Homo sapiens: one gene and its partner. The protein of the gene in region 1 purifies or fractionates together with the protein of each later gene. This does not show direct contact. Each region holds a gene or a part of one and is shown in the gene's direction. Other genes may lie near its edges.

Region 1 (3,654 bases):
TGAGTGAGACTCTGTCTCCCCCCCCCAAAAAAAATTATAATACGACCTACTATATTGGATTAAAAGTAGGATTTGTTAATACATGTAAAGCATTTAGTATAAGTGCTCAAAGGTTAACAATTATGATGACATAACTAAATTACAGGCATATATTTTATTATCAAGGCCCTGTTCTTGCCTCAAAATAGCTGTTCTGCACCCTAGACCAGGTATCTAACCTTTTAGTGTTTATTACCCCTAACAGTATATTTCTCCAAAGCACCATTACCAGTGACCAAGAAGAGAGACAAAATTGTCAAACCCTGGAAAGGCTTCCAAATTTTGATTGTAGTTCGGGATGCTGGAAAATCTTGAAAACACATTGGTGGCTGGGCTCAGTGGCTCACGTCTGTAATCCTAGCACTTTGGGAGGCCGAGGCGGGTGGATCACTTGAGGTTAGGAGCTCAAGACTAGTCTGGAGAACATGGTGAAACCCCATCTCTACTAAAAATACAAAAAAAAATTAGCCGGGTCTGGTGGCAGGCGCCTGTAATCCTAGCTTCTCGGGAGGCCGAGGCAGGAGAGTTGCTTGAATCCAGGAGACGGAGGTTGCAGTGAGCTGAGATCACGCCATTGCACTCCAGCCTGGGCAACAGAGCGAGACTCTGTCTCAAAAAAAAAAAAAAAAAGAAAAGAAAATACATTGGCAAATCAGAGCTCAGTGGTATCTTGGGAAAATATTTTCTAGAATTTATTTTTGATTCACAAAGATTTGAAGATAAAGTAGAATGTGTTGCTAAGGTCATTGCAAAACTAGTAAGCAATCTATAGTCGAGGTTCAGGCAGTCAGCAGCAGGCCTTTCCTCCAAGTGACTGATAAGGAAGAGTTGATGACAGAGTTCATCTCAAGGTATTGACATGACAATATAAGTGACTGCAGCCTTCAAATACTTCAAATTACAGAGATACTTTTTGAGGACGTGAACTCAAAATTAGGGTTTCTAGCGTCTGACATGCTGGAAATCCTAACAGCTTGTATTTGCTATGGTAAATTCACAATAAAAGAAGACGACCAGAGACATCCCTAAGAGGGATTTTCCTAAGAGCTGTTAGGTAATCCTGTTCTCTACAGTGGAATACTCAAAAGTGCTCTGGACAAATTCCCAAAGAAGCTGTTTTGAATTCTGTGACTTCAATAGCTGTTTGTCACCTTATATCTTGGGCTTTTTTTTTTTTTTTTGACGGAGTTTCGCTTTTGTTGCCCAGGCTGGAGTGCAATGGCATGATCTTGGTTCACTGCAACCTCCGCCTCCCAGGTTCAAGCGATTCTCCCGCCTCAGCCTCCCAAGTAGCTGGGATTACAGGCGCCTGCCACCACACCCGGCTAATTTTTGTATTTTTTGTAGAGATGGGGTTTCACCACATTGGCCAGGCTGGTCTCGAACTCCTGACATCAGGTGATCCAGCTGCCTCGGCCTCCAAAAGTCCTGGGATTACAGGTGTGAGCCACTGCGTCTGGCCTTACTGGGTTACTTTTTTTTTTTTTTTTTTTGAGACAGAGTCTTGCTCTGTTGCCCAGGCTGGAGTGCAGTGGTGTGATCTTGGCTCACTGCAACCTCCGCCTCCCAGGTTCAAGCAAGTTTCCTGCCTCAGCCTCAGCTGCACACCCTGTAGCTAGTATTATAGGTGTGTGCCACCAGGCCTGGCTACGTTTTGTATTTTTTGTAGAGATGGAGTTTCACCATGTTGGCCAGGCTGGTCCTGAACTCCTGACCTCAGTGAATTCAGAGAGATTAGTAGCTTGTCTAAATCACAATTTGTCATTGATGGAGCTGGAATGTGAACCTAGGTTTGTCTTCACTCCAAAACCCTGAACCACAGTAATGAGCTGTCTCTGTAAAGGGGTGTAACCGTGGTCTTCTGCTAGGGAAGTGATAATCGATCTTGATTATCTAGAGTGTGTGTACATTTGATCTAGTTAGGATATTCTTTTTACATTAGTATGATGACTGATTTAAATTTTGTTAAATTTTAAGACCCCTCTGGGGCCATTATTATAATTTAAACTGATTGCTAATTTGTATTATGAGTACAGTATAGACATTCCAAGGTCGGGTTGATTTAGTATCCATTACAAGACACAGACCTCCACTCTGTCTCTCTCAATCTCCACCTTCCTCTTTTCCTCCCCATTCCTTGTCCTACCCTTCAGTAGAGTAACTTTTAACTTATTCTTTTAGTATTAGGCTTGTTTTTCCTTTGAAAAGTTTGAGATACTTTAGAAATATAAAAAGATAGTCTCACAATAAACATTCATTTATTTTTCCCCCTCCCCCCAGCTTAATGAAAGCATCTTGTATACCCATTCTTTTCCCCAAGGGGTAGGACCTATCTCAGATCTGGTGTTTATTGTTCCTAGGCATTTTGATACAGTTGGGCACATCCATAAACAATATATAATGTGTTTGCATGTGTTTAAACTTTATATAATGGTTTCATCCTATACTTTTTTCCCTCTGAATATATTTGTGAGATTCATCCAATTGGATGTATGTAACTTTATTTCATTTAGTTCAACCTTTTTTTCCTACAAGTGACATTTAAAAGGACTTTGTTAATTGATGTTCTATGATGATGTACCTTCTACCTATGCATTTTTTGGATGATAAAACTAAATATATTTAGGGAATATTCATGATGAAAGCCTTATTGAAATTTGTTTTATAAATTTAGGATACTAGCTTTCAAAACAGTCAGTAATTAATAAATCCATGAATCTTAAAGACATTTAACCCATTTTCTTTTTGGTATTTTGTTACCAGCCCAGCATGGATAATCAGAGTAAGCCAGTTCATGTCTCAGGACTATATGAGAACTGGTTTGAGTCAGAAACAAAAAATCTTTAAAAGCCATTTTGCTTCATTGAAATTAGACTTCTGATTAGAAAGAGAAAAATGATGTTTGTATAAACACAATGTACATGGAGAATTCTGGTAACTGTCAAGCTAGTTGGGGCAGATGAACATGATTTTCAGGCAGGGACTGGATGGTATCTTGTGGTAAGCCCCAAAGCAAACACTGGCAGGTCTGCTTCCCTTACTTATCCTAACACAGGAATGTAATTGCCAGGGGGATGCTTTTGTATTGAGAAGGCCTTGATATTGTTCTCTTTATAAACACATACACACACACACAGAGAAAAACACCAGACACTTTACATTCTAAAGGCAGGCATCTTGATATCGTTCTCTTTACACACACACACACACACACACACGCACACACACACACACACACACACACACACACACACACCAGGCGCTTTGCATTCTAAAGGCAGGCATCTCTGTAAACTCTGAGATGGACTGGAGTCACACCCCAAGTTGCTGCCATAGCTAGGCCTGACTCCCTGGTCCAACTAGAATTTCCTCCCTGTGTTTCCTCAGAAAGACATTAATCCAGTGCCACTTAATATTTCAACGGTGAGTGTGATTTCTCCTGACTTGTTGACTTGTTTACCCACAGGCATCTTCTACCCTCACTCTTGGTGGCAAGTCATGGTGAGATGTGTGGCTGGAAGAACTCAATTTGGCCACAGCAGTGTCACCTCAGGTCAGAATACAGGATGTGGAATGGTCTCTTAAAAAAAAAAATGAGTGCTTTCTTTTCTGACT
Region 2 (3,654 bases), on another chromosome or scaffold:
CCAATAAAAACGCTGAGTTGTGAAGTCCAATCAGGCACTTCTAACTCACCCCAAGCTCGCCATCTGGAAAAACAGACCAGAAGGCTCTCTTCTACAGAAATGAACTGTGGGGAAATCAAGCAGCTGTGACATGAAGTGAATGAAGTCCACTTGAAGCTGTGGAAGATGGTTCATCCTTTTCCCCAGTTGAGGATCCAGATTTATAACTTCTAGAAAGCCATTTCCAGAAGGTTCTATGTGGCACACCCCTAGGAAAGGCACTAAATGCATGCAAAGGATTTATAAACTTAGGAAAGTAGATGGGTGGAGTCCAGAAAACTGGTTCTGGGTTAATATCTCTACATCTGTCTTGATGACTCATTTCTCCTAACTCCCATTTAGTGCAGGGTAAATGGTTTGAGATGAGAGTTTTTCAATGAAAGGGAAATTTTCTTTCAGTTTACAGATGTATTAGAAGTCCTGACTTTCAAGTGTAATTTGCTTTGGAGGAGGAAAAAATAGTGAAAGAATCATTTTATCTCAATTCTAAGCTACTATCCATTTACTAATAGCTTTTTGGCAAGGAAATAACTGTCACCTTAGGTAAAAACAGTCTTGTTAGATGCAGCCCAATTTCAGGAACATTAAAATGTAAAAAAGTACGTCTCAGAATTGAGGGAGCATGGGAACAAAGACGAGACTTTCTCAGTATTTCTCATTTTTCCTGCAAGGAAAGCCTCGCCTTAGGCATCTCAAGTAAAGTGGCTAAGGTGTAAACTCTCTGGGCAAGATTTCTGTCCTGACTGGGACAGTGTTCTTGGAGGAGACATGAGAGAGTCAGAAACTTCTGCCAGTCATAGAGAGTGATGATTTTGCAGAAGGCCACTGGGTTATTGGCCTACATTTACCACCGACTTCCTTTATGGCCTTTTCTCCACTTCTCCGGACTCAGCTCCTCTGTCTGTACCACGTCGGGGGTTGGGACCAATCATTGTATCTCAAACTTAAGAATCAACTCACATTTGTACTATTACTCATGTAACATTTTTTTAAGTCACCTTTTCTTAAAAGCAAGACTTAGCCTCCTCCAAAGAAATAATATGCATGAAATTTCAACTCTGATATGCTAGGTTTTTCCCTAACATTAATCACATAATTATCAATGTAACAAACATGCACCCACATACCACCTGAAATCATTTTGTGAACCACCAGGAGCATGTGTATCAAACTTTGGGACCCTGAGTAACTGATATGACAGAAGATTTATGCCCTTAGGGGCATCAAAGATGGTGGTTCTTCACATATTAGAGTCAGCAGGGCTGCCCATAACACACACAGGAATAATTTTTGTCATGGTTTAAGGAGTTCATAGGCCCCTTTGCAGTTTATCTGCGAACTCCAAATAAAAGCCCCTACACTAGTCCAACACCCTTAGCATATAGATGTACAAACTGGGATCCAGAGTAGGATGAGTTTGCCAGAGAAGAAAGAGCAGAGGGCAGCCATCCTCTCCTCCATCCCCTGCAAAGGATGCATTAGAGCAAACACCCAAGACTCCTGGACGGGAACAGGAGGGGAAAGCCCTAGAGATTAGGCCTCAGGGAGCAATAACCACCACGATGTTTCACAAATTAACTGTTCTTTACCAGGTACTGAACTAGGTATTTTACATGTGTGATCTTTCAGCCCCAGTACTGGCAATATTTCTTAGTTAGTGGCACATAGAAGTCAGTCTGTTTTCCTGCTGACACTAAAAACTACTTGAAGGCTGATTTGCTACCTTGCAACAGTTGGTTCGATTCTAAGGGCCCTATACTACTTTACCCCACAAGGCCTGCTGCTTGGTAAGAGCCATCAGATTACAACTGGAGGGTGTCAGTTGAATGAAGGAAAATGGAAGCCACGCCATCCCTGGCTTTTACAAAAACCATCCTTGCGCAACATTCAGTTCCTGACGTTAAAAACAAGTAATGCAAAAAGCTGAACTTTGGTAGACATTCGTACTCTTCTGTCAGGAGGAGGAAGATTAGTTAGAAAAAACAAAAAAGGAAGATACTAGCCAGCATCAAGAAGTGGGATATATAAAGGCAGATGGGCAGTGGGAATCAAGTTGCTTCTTAACTCCTTCAAGTTTGGCTCCTGCCTTTACTCTTCCATTGAAAAAAAAGCACCTTTAAACCTCTCATTGATCTTGTAATTAATTCAACCAAATCAACTTCTATTAGGCAACCAGCATATATAAGATGGAACAATTGCAAGGTGGAATAAAGATGAAGCTAAAATTCTGCTAGCTCAGTGGCCCAATGAAATAAGTCAGCTATCTCCACTAAACTTCCTTTGAATATTCTAGGGTCCATTATAATAAAAGGTACACACTCAAATGCCCAATTTCTAAGGACTTGAAAAGCCATAATTTCCCTCCCTTCAAGCCTACAGAGCAACTGCCTAAAGCTTCCCTCCCCAGACAACCCCAGGCCTCATTTCTTTTTCAGTCCCTTTGCTAGCTGCCTGCAGGGCTCAAGAAAGCCCTGGTAGGCCTCATAATGAGGATTTAGGGATGACACTATAGTCCACAGCCTGAATGGTGGAACCCTTACTAATTTTCCCTCTTCCGTGATGAATGTGTGGATGAAGCCGGTGTGTTTTTAATAATGCCACCCCACTTCCAAAACAAATCCCCTGACACAGTCTTTGGACATACCACCCTGAATGCACCCGATCTCATCTGATCTTGGAAGTGAAATGGAGTCAGGCCTGGTTAGTCTTTGGATGGGGGAAGTCTAGACACACCACTGAGAAACATTCACACTGCAACCTGATTCACTGTGCATCCAACATGCCTTCATCCACCTCTTCCCCCTGAACTTCTAAGTCAACTCTCAGGGACTGCTTTCCAAGGGAGCAACCAACCTGGTCAGTGGAAAAAGGATGAGACTGGGAGACAGGAAACGTGGGTCCTGCTCCTGGTAACCATGGAACTTAAGCTACCCACTCAGTCCCTATGTCAGTGTCATCACCTGTAAAATGGCCAGAAAGACATCTATCCTAGCTCAGAGAATTGTTATTGGGAGAACAAGAAATCCATTTACTTACAACTATTTTGATAGGTTTAAAGCACCATAAACTAATAATAGCAACAACAGTGATGGGTAATATACTATTGCTTTCCATGCCTCATCTCATTATCTCCTCTCCCAGACCCCATGGTGGCATTAGTATTTCCATTTTGCAAATGAGAAAATAGACTCAAGTTGTCAACCTAGCCAAGGGCACAAAGCCCGAGAGAGATGGAACCAGGACTCCAACTCAAGGTATCTGACTCTAAAGCCAGAGCTGTTAAAATACAGCTCTAACATACAATAGTTGCTAACATTTATTGAGCACTTATTATAAGCCAGGCTTTGTTCTACAAATTTCACATGTATTGACTTATTTACCCCTAAAACTCCAGATGCAGATACTATTGTTGTTCTCATTTTATAGATACAGAAACAGATGAATGACAACCAAATTTACACAGTTCACAAGTGACAAAGCCAGGCAGTTTTAGTTAAAGTTCTTATCCACTATCCCCATCATACATTATGTGTGTGTGTGTGTGTGTGTGTGTGTGTGTGTGTGTGTGTGTATGCATGTAGATGGAAGTTACTGATCAGAAAACAAGCCCCAGTA

Evidence for each region. Proteins that work in one complex are often made in the same cells at the same time.
Region 2: the proteins of ARHGAP10 (region 1) and PPP2R2B purify together in Homo sapiens (co-immunoprecipitation; one large-scale study listed by IntAct). This does not show direct contact.

Annotation. Positions count from the first base shown.
Region 1 is NC_000004.12:147,738,535-147,742,188, forward strand, and holds part of ARHGAP10 (rho GTPase-activating protein 10), read left to right. Parts: intron 1-3,654. UniProt on the Homo sapiens protein: GTPase-activating protein that catalyzes the conversion of active GTP-bound Rho GTPases to their inactive GDP-bound form, thus suppressing various Rho GTPase-mediated cellular processes. Also converts Cdc42 to an inactive GDP-bound state.
Region 2 is NC_000005.10:146,585,216-146,588,869, reverse strand, and holds part of PPP2R2B (serine/threonine-protein phosphatase 2A 55 kDa regulatory subunit B beta isoform), read left to right. Parts: 3' UTR 1-3,654. UniProt on the Homo sapiens protein: The B regulatory subunit might modulate substrate selectivity and catalytic activity, and might also direct the localization of the catalytic enzyme to a particular subcellular compartment.